Linked DNA regions of Homo sapiens: region 1 is linked to region 2. Evidence: fine-mapped expression QTL. Tissue or cell type: macrophages after interferon gamma. Region 2 holds a variant in brackets; the other region holds the start of a gene. All regions are shown on one strand. Distances are between the middles of the regions.

What was found. PIP is the estimated chance that this variant, and not a neighbour inherited with it, causes the effect.
Region 1: it holds the start of ARL14EP, and the variant in region 2 is fine-mapped to the expression of ARL14EP in macrophages after interferon gamma (Alasoo 2018, PIP 0.93).

What each region holds. Positions count from the first base shown.
Region 1 is chr11:30,318,230-30,326,338 of GRCh38, reverse strand. It overlaps ARL14EP (ARF like GTPase 14 effector protein), which reads right to left and starts at 3,235. Exons shown (of 4, transcript NM_152316.3): 1 at 3,137-3,235. It overlaps ARL14EP-DT (ARL14EP divergent transcript), which reads left to right and starts at 3,393. Exons shown (of 2, transcript NR_187437.1): 1 at 3,393-3,421. RefSeq lists silencers at 3,006-3,135, 4,790-4,849 and enhancers at 3,206-3,455, 2,968-3,573.
Region 2 is chr11:30,237,538-30,245,646 of GRCh38, reverse strand. All of the region lies in intron 1 of ARL14EP-DT (ARL14EP divergent transcript), which reads left to right. Among named protein-coding and RNA genes, the nearest start is that of FSHB, 11 kb to the right of the region's middle. The variant A/T (reference allele first, on the strand shown) is at 4,473.

The sequences.
Region 1 (8,109 bases), 81 kb before region 2:
TGGCATCAGCTGAGACCTCAGTAGAAATACAGAATCTCAGTATCAGCTCCAGACCCAATGAGTCAGGATCTGCATTTCAAAAAGATACCCAAGTGATTTGTAAGCACATTACAGTTTGCTATGTACTGCTTCAGATAATTCAATTAAAAAATTTAAATTTAAAATGTTTTGATATCTTCTATATTTTATAGAAGATAGCAAAAAAGAGTAAGAAAAACACAGATATGTATTTGCCTTACAGGAAGTCTAACTCTAGGGAAGATTATTGAGGGAGAGGAGATTTAAATTCGATACACTAAGGACAGAGAAAAACATCTGCTTCAATAGAAAACTGCACTGTTGAGAGCACAGCCTTTCAGGTTTTCACATTCTGATTACATGGGAAGTCTGATTCTTTCAGCATCTTGGAGCTATTTTACAACTGTCAACTGTAGATAACCAACAGCAATGCAAAATAATTGTCTGTATTCTTGTAAATTCTATCTGCTGAAGGTTCAATGGACTTCCGTCTGACTGTGGAAGCAGCCAATTTTGCCCTCACTTGCACATTTATTTCAATATTCCTGCTCTATAAACATGTCTACTTTTAATTGTCATTTAAACTGGTTATAGCATCTTACCAGTTCCTATTTTAATAATCTTTTAACGCAAGAAAAGATTAATTTGCTCCAAACACTTTGGTCAATATAAAACCTAGTACTCTTCATGGAAGAAAAAAAATCCAGCTTCTTATAGGATAACAAGCAAACCAATAACAAAAACCCCAGTTTTAGAAAGATTCACCATGGTATAAATAAAATCCAGGTTTTCAATACTTTTCAATGTCAAATAATAAAAACACTTTTTGGCAAGTTGAATTTTGCTTGAGCCCTGTGCTGGCTCCTTATTAGCTATAATTTAAAAAATCCTCCCACCCTTGAGTTAGGTAAGACTCAAGGATCCCCCCTTGTTTACCTATGACCAGGCAAAAGAAAGACCCTCCAAATTCTCATTTTTTGCTTCAACTATGAATTTATGAATAATTTGCTGATCTGCTTGGCCCTACAGATCAAGTGGAACAAAATACTTGTTAATCAAACTTTAGTTTCTCTCCTTCCCCCAGGTTCCTGAGCTTTGGCCAACTCTCAGCCAGAGCCAAGGAATAACATTCTCAGATCTACTATTAGATCAAGCCACCCTTATATCCTACTTCCTCACACCAAAACTTTCTAGCACAGTTCACTCCTTGGAGATTCTTGCAGATCTTTTGGTTCTACCCATTGCAAAAGTCCCTTTTCTCCTTTTGTGATAACCCTTTTGAATAAAGTCTCTCCTAAGTCCAGATTTCTTATCTGACATTGTCTTTTAAAAATTCTGCATAGGAGAAAATTAAGACTTTCTGCTGCCTTAGGATTGACATCACTTTACTTTAGTGCCTAAATACAGCATGTTTTGTATTCTAAGATTAACATTTAATATTTTTGTAGCACTACCTAAGAATCAAAAGAGAATGAAATAAATGTAGAATACTTTGATTAGACCTCTCCTACTACCTTAGGCAGTAAACAAAAGTATTTGCTCCTCATACAATTTGAACGCTGCCAGCTCAGGGAATTATCCAGCTTTACTTTAAAACATCAGTAGTTTTAAAGAGTTCTTAAGCATTTTCTCTTGCTGCCCATTACCAAACGGTAAGGAAGGTAGATTAGGTTGAGGAAGCTGAGAAAACTCACACGCGGCCATGATGCTTGCAAGGTCTAGGACATTATCACAGGGGTTTCGGGGTGTTAATGCAGAACACCCCCCCCACCACTAACAAAACAGCAAAACAGCCACTAACAAAACAACAGCAGAGGGAATTGAGGATTAATTAGGGAACTCACTTTTTCTTCCTAAATTTGTAGGGGAGATGCAGAAATACCCGTTCCAATATGTTAATTTCCCTTAACATAGTTTTTTAGTTTGTTACCAGTCTCCTTATTAGTGGGAAAAGTAACATTTAGAGGAAATTTAACAAAACAAAAAATTTACTTCGTTTTTAGGTCAACTGATGTCTCTTTTATGAAAAACATAAAAAAAGTTTTCATGAAATGTTTTATGAAAAAAATTAAAGGCTTTTCTTGGCATAGGGTCTTACAACTTACACAGCGTCTTCCCAGATTATCTCTTATTTAATAAAAATATAATTTAATCTACCCCTACTCCCCAAATCAGGAGCTTTAGTTATGGGTACATACGCCTACAAAAGTCACGCATCCTGCAACTGTGAACTTTTTGTGCCTGTCATCTTCAAATACTGATTACCTATAACATGACAATTGGCCCAAAGGCAAAGAGGAGAGTCTCAATCCTCAGGAAGATCTAGGTACAATAAGAAAGGTAAAGGCAATTTAAAACAAAAATATAGTCCATAACACCATTGAAAAGATTTGGTTCAAGTGTGGTAGTCAGGACATGCCAGGTACAGTGCTTAGGGCAAACATCATTTCAGGAACCTTCATAGCCACCCTGAGGAAAGTACTATCATTCTCATTTACAGATGAAGAAACTCAAGCCTAGAGCTGTTGTTATCATGCCTAACAGAGTGCCCCCAAACCCTGCAATGATTCCCAACCCAACCCTGTAAGAGGCCACATACATTTCTTCCTTAGTTCACGGCTATTTACAAATGACTAAAACCACCAGATCCGTCCAGTGGGCACCTACTAAGTTCATGGTACCGGGATGGAAAAATAAACATTAGCCTTTGGCCTCAAACGGCCAGGGTTGAAAGGATTCTGATTTGAAAAATTAAAAACAAAAATAGCAGAGATAAAGGCTGTCTACGGAGTTCAAGGCCACAATAACCCTAAGTAGTTCACGTCAAAATCGTAGCTTTGAAGGTCCTGGGCCTACAGGACAGGCGACGACCCTCAGAGAGGTCAGAGGCGGCAGAACCTGTGCTGGGCTTTGACACAAGGCGTTGCGTCGCAGATGAACTACGCGGGGGTAGGGGTGAGAGGCCCCGGCCAGCAGCTGGAAATCCCCCTCACGTGTGCGGGCCTCCTCTTCCACCTCTCCCCGGGTTCCCCCGTTACGCCGCCGGGCTCCCTCGCCACCCAGGGGCCTGTCTCCACTCTCCCACTCCTCTCCAGGGCCTCCCCCGTTCCCCTTCCACCTTAGCTTGAGCTCTCCTCCGCCCGGCTTCGGGCAAGATGCGAGTCCACACAGGCCACACTCGACCGACCGCTTCCCAGCCAGTCCCCGCGCTACCACTGAGAGGACGGCAAGCGCGGGCTAGAGGAGCTCAACGCCACCACAAAGAGACGTCCGGGAGAAGCCTAGAGCGGACACGAGGCTGGCCGCCTCCGGGGACGGAAGGGGCGGGGCGGTGTGAAGTGGCAAATGATTCAAGGCGAGGCAAGAGGTGCTTCAGATGCTGTCTTTTGCAGTCCTCCGAGAGGTTAGGGATGTGGGAGGTCCCTGGGGGCCATCTCTTACAAGACACAGTTTCCACTAAATTGGATCGTATTTGTACATCTCTACACCTGTGCGTGATAGTAAACTTTTGCACCCAAATACCCCGACCCCTGAAGGAGAGTGTGAGTTAAAAGGATCTGAAGAACGGACCCTTTGTTTAAGGTCTCACATTCTATTTCTTTAATTCAAGCGAAATATATTCCAAAATGCATCTTTTATTGTAAGCTATAAAAATAGCTATTACTTCGAGTAAAATGTAGGCTCCAGGAAGATGCTTGTAAATTTTCTCAGAACAGAAATGGTATTTTTATTGTATCCTTATTGTCTGTCACAGTATAGGTGCTCATTAATTTTTAAAGTGGGTTTTATTATCTAGAATCCAGGAGAACTGAAAGTCTCTTAAAGATTCTTGGCCTTTTAATTATCTTAAGGTCGGGATAGCAGGGAAACAAAAACTTGTTTTAAACTCCCAGTGAAAAATGAGGAACAGGTAAATAAGACAAGCCCCACCAAGGCCCAAGCGTGCTAGTAATTCTCTGCATCTACTGTAAGCTGTTTTCTGCAGTGCGTCTATGGTCCTCCCACCACTTTCATACTGCTCGCCGACTAGGCAAGCGATTTGATGCCTAGAACTAGGGAATGACAGAAAGGAAAAAACAATGAATAGTTTCTTCAACTGTGTCTGCAGGAGGTTGCATTCTGTAATTCTTTTACTGTTTACTTTGTGGTTGGCACTTTGTTAAGCAATGATTAGACAAAAACAAAATTTATTTCTGCTTCCAAGGAGCTCACAGACTAGTGAGAGAGGAATAAACAGTTAATCACAGTGTGGTGTGAAAAGTGTCATAACAGAAACACATGGATATAAACAGGATAAAATGATAGGGGCTAAAGCAGGAGCGTTCTGGGAGGAGATTAATGCCTGCATGGAACTTAATTTGATGCAATTGTGACTTCCTAGTAAACTAGGCAAGCTATCCTAAAGGTAATGAAACAGAGAAGGCTCACAGATCAAATTAAGATTATTAAATAATATAGCCTATTCAATTTAAGTATCCAGTGAAAAGGTGAAAGAGTTGTGGTAAGTGGACACACTTAGGATAAGGTGCAAGCAAGTGGAAGGACGCCATCACCTGAATCATGGGTTAAGTAATGTTCATATATCCTATCTGCCACAACAGCCTTCTCCGCTGGTGGTATACTTACGAGGACCAGAGGTGAGGTGTCAGCAAGGAGGCCCACAGGTGGAAAGTGCTTTGGGCCAATGGTACACACCTGCTTTATTGGATAGACGCAGAGAAGTATGCCTGGTCACAGCCAGAGCTTACTCGGTAAGTTGTTGAACAGATACAGGTTTTATTTGCATTTCCTGGGCAGAGCACATATGAGACTATTCTAAGTGTGACCAATGGGTGGCTGATTTAGAGGTGACATAGTTAATAGCCCAGAGATGTCATGATTGCTCATTGCTTAGTTTTTCCATCCCTTTTTGGCTATCAGTGACTCTCTATTCCATCATATTTCTATTTAACTTTGGCATGTCTTATAGTTTACTAACTTACTCTATATATTTTACATAATCCTGCCTATGTTTCACAAAGTACATGCTTACTCATATTCTATATTTAAAATATGCTAGGAGTTTTGCATTTATCTCATAAGCTACTAGCTTAGTTACTGTCTATAGTTAACACTTCTTACGCCTTTCATCCATCCCTAAGGAAACTGCAAAGCCTTTCAGTATGGGTAGAGTGGAAAGCTGGAAAGGCGCATAGGTAACAAATAATGCCCTTTTTATGCCATATTAGAGATACTGAATTTTAACCTGTGAAAACTGTAAAACTATCAGGAGTGTAGAGAATAGAAGAGAGGTGCGGTCCTGGGCTAGAGGGCCAGGTGGAAACTCTTGCCCTAACGCAGATGATTAAGAAGAGGGCCTCCATCAAGTGAGGCAGTGGCTCTATGGGTTGAAATGTGATTCCCTCCCACTCACCTCCTCCCACTGGATTTGGTAATGTCTAGAAACATTGTGGCTGTACCAGCAAGGGGTGCTACTAGTATCTAGAGGGGTAAAGGACAGGGTAACTGCTAAACACTTAACAATGCACAGGACAACCTCCCTCCTCCAACAACAAAGAACTAACTGGCTCAAGATTTCAGTAGAGCCAAGATTGAGAAACCCTAAATGAAGGACATTTAAAAGGCATAGAGATGATAGAAGTTAAGTAAGAATTGGTCAGATTTTTTAACTGATTAGATATAGAGGTTAGGAAGTAGTAAATAATTATTTCAGGTTTCTAGCTTGGATAACTGGGAGGTCAAAAGGAGGAATGGGCTAGGGAGAACAGAGATAAGAATTTAAATACTGAATACGCTAAGTTTTCTCAAACTTATCAAATGTACCTCCAAGTGAAGATATACAGCTGGCAGCTGGAAGAAGAGGGCAGGATAAGAGAGGGATCTCAGCTGGAAGATAAGAGTTTTGGGAGATGTTAGTCTGTGAGTGGTAGTTCTATCTTTGGAGCTGGGTGGGATAGGGAAGATGATACCTATGGAATGTATAGGGTAAAATGAGAAAGAATAGGGCTAAAGATTATTCTAAATTTCTGAGCTCTCGTTCTATTTTACTGAATCAGAATCTCGGTCCTCCAAGCCAGTCTACCAGATCATAATATCTGCAGATAAGATCCAAGAATCTGCATTTTTGGCAAGCAACCCAGGTGATTTTGCAGCACACTACGATTTTAGAACAACAGATTTAGGTCTCAGAAAAGTCTGAGAAGGAGCAGACAGCGAGGTAGCAAGAAAACTAGGGAAGAACAGAGACCCACAAACCAAGAAAGGAAAGTTTAAAGCAGGGCTCTGTCGGTGCAAGAGGTTGTTATAGAGCAGTACTGGCCATTAGAAATACAATGTGAGTCACATAAGCCATTGTAAATTTTCTAGTAGTGATATAAAAAGGTAAACAGAAGCAGATGAAATTAATTTTAGAGATAGCGCTTGTTTAACCCAATAATTAAGACATTATCATTTTAACATGCAATTAACATAAAAACTAATGAGATATGTCACGTCCTTTAATTCATATTATGTCTTGGAAACCTGGTGTGTGTATTACACCTCCAGTGCCTCTCAATTTGGTCTAGCTACACTTCAAATATTCAGTAGCCGCATGTGCCTAGTGGCTACCAGAGTGGATAGCACAGGTGTAGAAAGTCAAGTAAGGAAATAACTCATTTTCCAGCTCAGACTGAAATGAACTAGAAGGAAAATAAAAAGAACTAAATATATTCCTTAGCTGTACTAATAAGATAGTTATAGATGGTGTAATAAGACCTGTTTCAGTGATATGGTGATGGTAGAAGTCAGAATATACCCAATTAAAGAGCGGGAAGTTAGAGATGCTAACAGCTACCTGAGAGAACATCTTCAACAAGCTTTACTGTCAAGTATAAAGAGGCACCCCTTTTTTGTGTCTTTGAATGTGAATTTTAAGATTAAAGAACACAATTCAGTTTTAATTTAGGTTTTAGCAATTACATTTGGATTTCTGCTTCTGCAGAATTACCCTATCACTAGAAATATCTGGAAAATTGAGCATAATATGTGAAATGAATTGGGCACGGTAGCTCACAAGTGTAGTCCCAGCTACTGGAGAAGCTGAGATGGGAGTATCACTTGAAAAAAATATATATTTTATATATTACATACATGTATTTACGCATATATATAATATAAAATATATGATATGTATATATCATTTTATATATATTTATATACTGAATATGTTATATATAATATATAAATATATAGATATATAAAATATATGCATATGATAAAATATAATATTTATATTTTATATACATATATAAAATATATATTATAAATATATAATATGTATAAGATATATAATATATACACACATATATACATTCATATAAATCATAAGTATGTATACTTATACATATTTAGGAAAGGGTTGTATATATACATATACACATATATGTATGTATCTATGAAATCATTGTTTTCAGACATTAGCCAACAGGCAGTGCAGTATCGTGATCCCTGAGAGAAGGGAAACGAATGAATTAAGTTCCATAATGACCCCAGCTTACTATCTGGAGGCAGTGTCCAGAGCCTAGAACAGGGAGGGGAACCCAAACAAAAACCGGTGATTTCACTAAATGGAGGCGACAGAGATGGAGGTGACAGAGATGGGAAGTTGGAGAGGCTGATGGGCAGAGTATCTGAGAGGAGGACATGGCACACAGGAGAGTCTTGGACATCTGCAAGAGTGTTCCTTTGTATTGCGTACTTCCCTTTGGCTCTGAGTACTTATCTGTGCAATGGAAGGATGAAACTCCACGAGGCTAGGGAAAAGACACCAAAAAGCAGTGGGCCAAACAGTTTCTAGTACTTACACAGGGCTGGGAATAGTTTGTCTTCCCATAAGCAGGAGCAGATTGACAGACCTTGTAAGAAGCACTTATTTGTTTCTACCAATCAAAGTAACAGTAGGAGCTGGGCCAGGTTGGTCTTTCTCTCTCTCTTTCTGTCTCCACGTGGGCTCTTTGCTTAGGCTAGTTTGGTCTTCCTCACAGCATGACAGCCAGAAGGTAGTTGGATTTATTACATGGTGTCTCAGAGCTCCCAGGGTTTGTGCTCCAG
Region 2 (8,109 bases):
TGTTTTGAAGCCACAACCCCCAATGTGACTGTATTTGGAGATAGGGCCTTTATGGAGGTAATTAAGGTTAAATGAGGTCATAAGGATGGGGCTTTGATCTGAAAGTATTAGTATCCTGATAAGAAGAGACAAGAGAGAGCTTGCTCTCTCTCTCTATCTCTGTATCTCCTTGCCATGTGAAGACACAGAGAGAAGGTGGCAAATTAGGAAAAGATCTTTTACCGGGAAGCAAATTAGCCAGCACCCTGATTTGGAACTTCTAGCCTCCAGAGCAGTGATAAAATAAATTTCTGTTGCTTAAACCACCCGTTCTATGGTATTTGTTATGAAAGTCTGAGTTAAGTAAGACAGTTCCCAAAATGGCTTTGTCTCTCTCCCTTTTTCACTCACTGGCCCATGCGCCTTCTTGCAGCTTCTGCTCATTTGTCTTTGTCCCAACATTTATTTAAGAAAATAAAAAAGGGCATAAAACATGCTCAAGGATAGATGAGAATGTAACATTTTGCCCAGAGGAAAATTAAATTCCGAGACAGCATTCTGAAGGTGCATATTAAGTGAATTGGTGGGGGAAAATGTAATTTAGGAGACAGTGAAATTGCATTTCAGTGGAGAAGCAGTCATCTCGCAGCAGCACTGTGTCTATCTGGATATCATTTCCATTTCAGTTTCCTGCATGTGTCATGTCCTAGAACTCCCCCACTACATTTCTTTTGAGACCATCAAGAATAGATAACTCAAGAATGATCTGCAGGTCAGTGTACAGGTGAAGGAAGTTTCTAACACTGGAATAAAGATAGGGCAAAAATGAAAATCATAAGCATTACGTTTCTTTTCATTTTTGATCAATTGATTTCCTATAATGTATTAGGCAGTATAATAGGATGTTAGAATCAAAGTTTCAAGACATCAAGATGTAGTAAATTTCAGATATCAAAGTGAGTCAGACCATCCTTTAGGAATTTCAAAGTAGATGGCCAAAAAATTCTCAGAGAGCCTCACTGTCAGTAAGGGATTTAAAAAAATGTGGGTGTTTGAAAATGAGAATATTTTATGAAGAGGAATGCTTTGGAGGAGGTTGTATAAACTTCCCACCCTATATCCTGTTGCTAAGGAGGCAAGGTGGAGAGGTATGTGCTCCTTATTTCGAATTCAAGGGAGGGAGGATTAAGTGGGATCATTCAGAGAGCTTCATGAACAGTCCCTAGAATTGTTAGATACAGTGACTAATATCTGACTCATGCCTGAGAAAGCTAAAAGTGAAGAAGTTATCTAAATCTTCCTGTGGCTTCAAAGTAGAGGAATGGAACTAGAAAGCAACTGCTCTCCCTCCACCCTCTCCACCCACCAATATTGGGCCAATGTGGCAAAAATTCTGGGGCCAGAATGGGAACCTCACCTTAGGAATGTCTATTTAATAAAGGCTCCTGCTCAATACAGTTCTTTACAGAGATTTGAGGTATATAGTGTTAAATAAAGAAAGCCTGCCTCCAGAGATGCATTCCCCATGACAATGGAATTATGGTTGGAGGGTCCCAGCAGAGGTGCCTCTGAAAGAGCACAGACACATGCTTAGAAAAGAGTCACTGTCAAACAGCTATCATGTCCTGAGAGGATGTACCCATTTCCTTTGGCTCTTCCTCTTTTCCCACTCTGTATTCTAATCCAGAAGGAGCAGTGACCTAGGAACAGGGAATAGAAATCCCAGATGGGGAGAGAGAGTTAAAGAATTATACCTCCACTCCTCCAAGGATGGGATATGTTTAATATTGACTCAGGTTTGATTGAAACTTTTGTTATTAGTAGGGACTGGCAGTTTTTGGTTACTGTTGTGCTTATGTAGTAGAGACTGAAGGTTTTTGGTTACTATTGTGCTTGTGAAGTGATAATGAAAACTTTGTTACCCAAAGTGACCATTGATACATCAGGCCATGTAGCCTGATAGATTTCCATCCAGTGGCAGGAGAAGGACAGCTTCCTTTTAGCAAATTCACAGGGACAATGGGAGAGCAAAATAAAGTTGCTTTTAGGATCTCACTCTGTGAGTCCTGTTTGTTCAGCATACTGATGACAGTGGCAAATAATAGGTATATGTTGGGGCCAATGCCCACAAAATTGACTGAATTCAGATCAATATGCCTATCTTCAAAAGGATGAATCACTTCTTTTTTCTTCAAATACAGAAAAACTACTTAGAGCTTTTCAAGGCCACTAAATTCTTAGTTCTGACTTCAGAAAAATATTTGTTTCAGATATGGAAATCAATCTGCCTGTCATTGTCAGCTTCTCTTTCTAGATTAAACCGTCTTTCAATCTCTCCTTTGCTAAAAAGTAATAGTATCAGGCTGTTCTTTGCTCCTGGGAAGTCACTGAAGAGACAATGGTTGTATCCTGCTTTCAAAGGCAGCCTATCATTAGGGTACCCAGAAGTGTACTGTTGGGGTATTAGTTAGGATTCTATAGGGGAACAGAACTAATAGGATAGATGTGTAAGTGAAGCAGAGTTTATTAAGGAGTATTGACTCATATGATCACAAGGTAAGGTCCCACAATAGGCCATCTGCAAGCTGGGGAGCAAGGGAGCCACTCCGAGTCCCAAAGCCTCAAAAGTAGAGAAGCTGACAGTGCAGGCTTCAGTCTGTGGACTCACTGATGTTAAGTCCAAGAGTCATTTATACTCACTAGTGTAAGACCAAGAGTCCAAATGCTGAAGAACTTGGAGTCCAATGTTCAAGGGCAGGAAACGTCCAGCACAGGAGAAAGATGAAGGCCAGAAGACTCAGCAAGTCAGCTCTTTCCACCTTCTTCTGCCGGCTTTATTCTAGCCACGCTGGCAGCCAATTAGATTATGCCCACCCAAATTGAGGGTGGGTCTGCCTTTCCCAGTCCACTGACTCAAATGTTAATCTCCTTTGGCAACACCCTCACAGACACACCAGGAACAAAACTTTGCATCTTTCAATCCAATCAAGTTGACACTCAATATTAACCATCACAGGTACCTAGTGGCCTTCATCATGGTCTTGTGTGAAAGACTCTACACAAAGAGAAATGATAACATTTGAATCAATCAAATCCTTTTTTTTTTTTTTGGTGGGGAGTGGAATTTAGGCTAAGAGACTCAAAGAGAAGTTCTGATTGATTCTGGGTGCTTATGTTGAAAGACACCTGTAATTAACAGCACATCCATACTGTGGAGATTGGAACTGCTGTGCAGGGAGAAAGAGAAATGTTAGGAAGGAGACTTGGGAACCCTTAAAGCAAGAATGACCATTTTGGTCCTTTAGCTATTTTAGTTTTAGTTCCAATTCCATGGACATCATTACAATAGAACCTTCCTTTCATGTAAAGAATCTTCCTTTCCTTTGCCAATAAAGCCTCTGATTAGAAGATTGCCATAAACTTGACTTGGTGGCACTGATTTCATTGCATACCCCACACAATTTTACCCTCAAAATTCACTCAGATCTCAGCTGCTGTGTGATGGGCTTTTGGTTTTCTGCTTATTTTAAGGGCAGTTGACTTTCTAAGTGCTGCTACTGTTTAGCACCTACTATTATTTCAGTTGGTTCTCAATTGTTATTTATTACTTTAATAATTTAATCTGGATTGATTGTCTAAATACCTGTGTCTTCACATGGACAAGCAGACCACCTTCTATATATAGACTTTAAATATGATTATTATGTACATTGCTTAAAGGTGGCTGAGATTGTTTTATTATTGTAGATGTTACTGGCTGATCTTTTCAGCTGATCTTTTTTATTGGAAATCGAGAAAGAAATGCTAATGGAGTAAAAAGGTCTTTTGCTTTAGATTTTGGAAAATTATGTTTAAGGTGGAAATAAATATACTCCATGTAAGGGATTCCTTGAAGAATTATTGTTTAATAACTTTAATTGTTTCCTGTCTCCTCTGTACTTTCACTACTCTCTCCCTGCTCCTAATCTCTGGCATTTGGTCTAGTCAATATTACATATCCCCCAGGGTTACCCTCTGTTTCCCCAGATGCATTAAGGCTTTGAAGTAATCTCGTTTGGAAAGGTAGCATTTTATCCTGGTGTGATATGAGTGTCTGGCTTCTTTAAAACCTTATTAGTAAACTGAGGGTCAAATTTTAAGTCCCAGCCCAACATTACCAAGTAATCTACATGGACCGCTGAAATACCCTCATGATAATGCTTGTAAAGAATGTTGGAGTATGGTAGATGGTACACAGGCTCTAAAGTCATGAGAACTCCCTGATCCTGGATTCCCCACTTAACAGCTCTGTGATACACTGTCTCAAGGATATGTACTTTATCAGCGGGACCAGTAGGAGGCACTAGCTTGCCTTTTTGTGTTGAGTATTTCATATGAAATAGTAGTCAGTGATTCCCTGAGCCACTTTCAGACAGAAAGAAGGAGGAAATTTTATTTAGGGAAATTCTCTCTCTCTCTCTCTCTCTCTCTCTCTCTCTCTCTCTCTCTCTCTC[A/T]CACACACACACACACACACACTCCTCCAGGCAAAAACTTAAAGTACTAAATAACAAAGCTGTTTTGCGTATTTTAACAGAAGATTGTGATCTGGGTATATATGTATACATTATTAGATAACTAATTTTATACTTGGTTCATGTGAGTTGATCTGAAACATTATATTTAAGCTCCTTAAGTACTGTGGATCCCTACAATAGTTAAGGTAATATTACCTGCTGTAACAAATAAACCCCCAAGTCTCAGTGACTTAACACAAGAGAAATTTGTTTCTTGTTCATACAAAGTTCTTTCAGAGGGAACAGGTGTTTAGGCATGTTTGAGTCCTCTGGGCATTCTGAGATTTAGGCTGTAGAGCCTCTGCTGCTCTCTGTGCATGGCTTCCAAGGTTGCTTTAATCATTAGTACTCAGTCACCTGAGAGTAGAAGAGAGTACGATTTACCTGTCAGAGGATTTATGAGCCAGACCTAGAAGTAGCACACATCATTTCTGATAACCTTGGTTATTGGTAGAACTTGGTGACATAAATATACCTTTCTACAAGTGGGGCTGCAAACTATGTCCCCAGGAAAAATAGAGAAGGTTTCTGTGAACACGTAACAATCTCTGTCACAGTCCAACCTTCTGAGAACAAATATCAGTTTCATCTTTCTCTGTCATCTGGAACCACCTCCTCCCCTTCTTTAGTCCAATTCCAGGCCCTTAATACCCGGATGATACACAGTTTTCTTTATAATGTCCAAATGTGGCTTCTCATGAGCTGGCAACTCAACCTGTGGACAAAAAAGACTTGTTATCTTCCTTGTCCCTTTCCCCCCGGTATTCAGGGATGAAGTACGGACACTTTGCGCAATAACTCCGTTCACAATAATACTTCTATTCGTAAGAAGAAAGAATGGGAGACACAGCTCACTGGATTAAGCAATGATGAAACCCTACTGGGCAAACTTTATGAAATCCTTTTGCCAGGCCAGTGGAGGAAGTTCCTGGATTAGATGCTGCTGCTTCTCACTAGGGGCAACATTCTTCCCTTGTCCATTGTTCTCCATGGCTCCTGGCTCTATCATCTGGAAAGTTCTTCCTTATCCATTACCTTCCATGACCACATTCAAAGTGGATGTTGGAGAGTCATCCTCCTTGGTCTTGTACAGGTTTCGTAGTCTATTTTCTCCTCATCAAGTTTAGGAGCCCAAAGGTTGTTCAAAGAAAGGCATTTTTAGTCTGGTCTCCTAGTTTCTTTGACAATCAGCTCCTTCAGATATTTCCATTTAGTTTCTAGTGCCTATAAACATGTTAAAAGTTTTTTCTTATTCATAATTATCAATCTTGATTTTTTTTTTTGCTTCCTTACAACTTAGTAGTTCTACCATGATAGTACCTGAGATAGAAGATCTAGATGGGAAGACCATACCCTAAATCTGTCTTTACCTCAGAACCGAGTTTTAATGAGCCTTTGTTTTTCAAATCCATCTTATCTCTTACTATTTATTTGTTTTTCAAATCCGTCTTATCTCTTAGTATTCATTTGTTTTTCAAATCCATCTTATGTCTTACTATGTATTTGTTTTTCAAATCCATCTTATCACTTACTATTTGGGATGAGGAAGCAATAGACATTTACATACAATTGAGGCAAAAATTTCTGGACTTTCTCCATTCCATTTTGCAAAAAAGCTATCTCTTTAATATCTAGAAAGGAAAAGCCAACTCCCTTTACGTTCCGGTTCTTTGTAAGCCTTTCCCTTAGAGCAGAGGCTGGCAAATTTTTCTGTAAAGTTTCAAATTATATTTTATTTACATTGTGGGCCATATGGTCTTTGAATTCTGCTTTTGTAGTACAAAAGCAATCATAGACAATACGTAAAAAATTAGGGTGGCTGTGTTCCAATAAGCTTTGTTTAAAAAAAAAGGTGATGGGCCAGATTTGGCCTTCAGGGCATAATTTGCTGACCCTGCCATAAAGCTAAGGACTGAATAGGCATGTGGCCAGCCTTCATGTTTTCCCAGGTGAAAGTTGTACTCTTTTTTTTTTTTTTTTTTTTTTTGTGAGTCTCACTTTGTCCCTGAGGCTGAAGTGCAGTTGTGTCATCTTAGCTCATTGCAACCTCTGCATCCTGGTTTCAAGCAATTCTTAGGCCTCAGGCACGCACCACCACACCTGGCTAATTTTTTATATTTTTTGCAGAGATGGGGTTTCACCATGTTGGCCAGGCTTGTCTCGAACTCCTGGCCTCAGGTGATCTGCCCACCTTGGCCTCCCAAAGCGCTGGGATTATAGGCATGAGCCCCCATGTCCAGCCGAAAGTTGTACTCTTGAGAAATAATAACATTCTAAACCACTAACTGACAGAACAGATTCTTCTCTTGGCCAAGGGGACCCCATAGAAAACTTGGAAGCTAAGTTCATGGCATGATGGGATGGGAGGTCCGAAAGGCTTCATGATATTCCCTCCAAGCTCTTAGGCTTTCTTCCCTAAGAGCTAACTAGACACCAGCTTTTTCAAAAAAAGTCCACTCTGATAATATCTACTAGTTTATTTTCCCAGGTACAGAACAAAGAGAAGATGAGAGTAATCATTCCTTCACTCTACGCTGAGATGTCTGCTTCCTCCATTCCTATTTACTTTGTTCACCTTATCTTACATAAAATGTAGATTTACCGAGTACTAACTAAAATCTCACAAGTATGTAATCATTTGTCTCATTGCCGCACCGACTCCTCTACCTTTGTAAAAGAAAATGTATAAATATTAAACCTCCGAGAACCTCTTTGGAAAAACAGCCACAGATGTGTCTGTTACTTGAGTTTTTCCTGGATGCATCCTCAAACTGGCACAATAAACCTTGGTGACTGAGACGTGCCTTTCAATCACTCATTTTGGTTGCCACTATGATTACTACTTTCTTTTCTCCTATTGTACAACCACTAAGCCAATGCCATATGTGCTAAGGTTTTCATTAATGCAACACGCCACTTCCAGTACCAATATTTGTAAGTTAAAATAATGCATTTTTTAAAACGAATAAACTCACAAATGTCAGTGACTAGAAGTTTACGGTGTTGATGCATAGCATCCACACAGCCTGCTATAAGGGGTTGTTGATATTGGGCACACTGCTCCATGCAGACATTCGGGGATCCAGGTTGACAATGGTTCTGTTTTCATCAACACAAACTTTCCTAGTCACCTTCAGGATTGACATCCAGCAAATAGAGGAAGAGAATAGATGATCACTTATGAGAGGTTTTTATGGGCTGTGTGTGAAAATATGTGCAGTACTTCTGCCCACATTCCATTAGCTGGCACACAGATACACTTGATTGCAAAGAAGGTGGGAAAATGTTGTCCAGCTTTATACCCAGGAAGACATAGGCACATATCTTCGTAAGTAGATTTGAATTCTCTACCTCTGTCACTAAATGCATACTAATGATTGAGGCTTTGCACACTAGCTGTGTGACTTCAGACTAGGCTCCGGGCCCATTTCACTTTTCTTATATTAGGCATAAAATCTAAATTAAATGTACAGTGCATAAAAAGATGCCATGTTAGTTGTCAACTAGTAAACACTGAACATGCCTACAGGAATATAGTAAACACCTGTACAGCAGTCTCCTAGTTTTTTATATATTA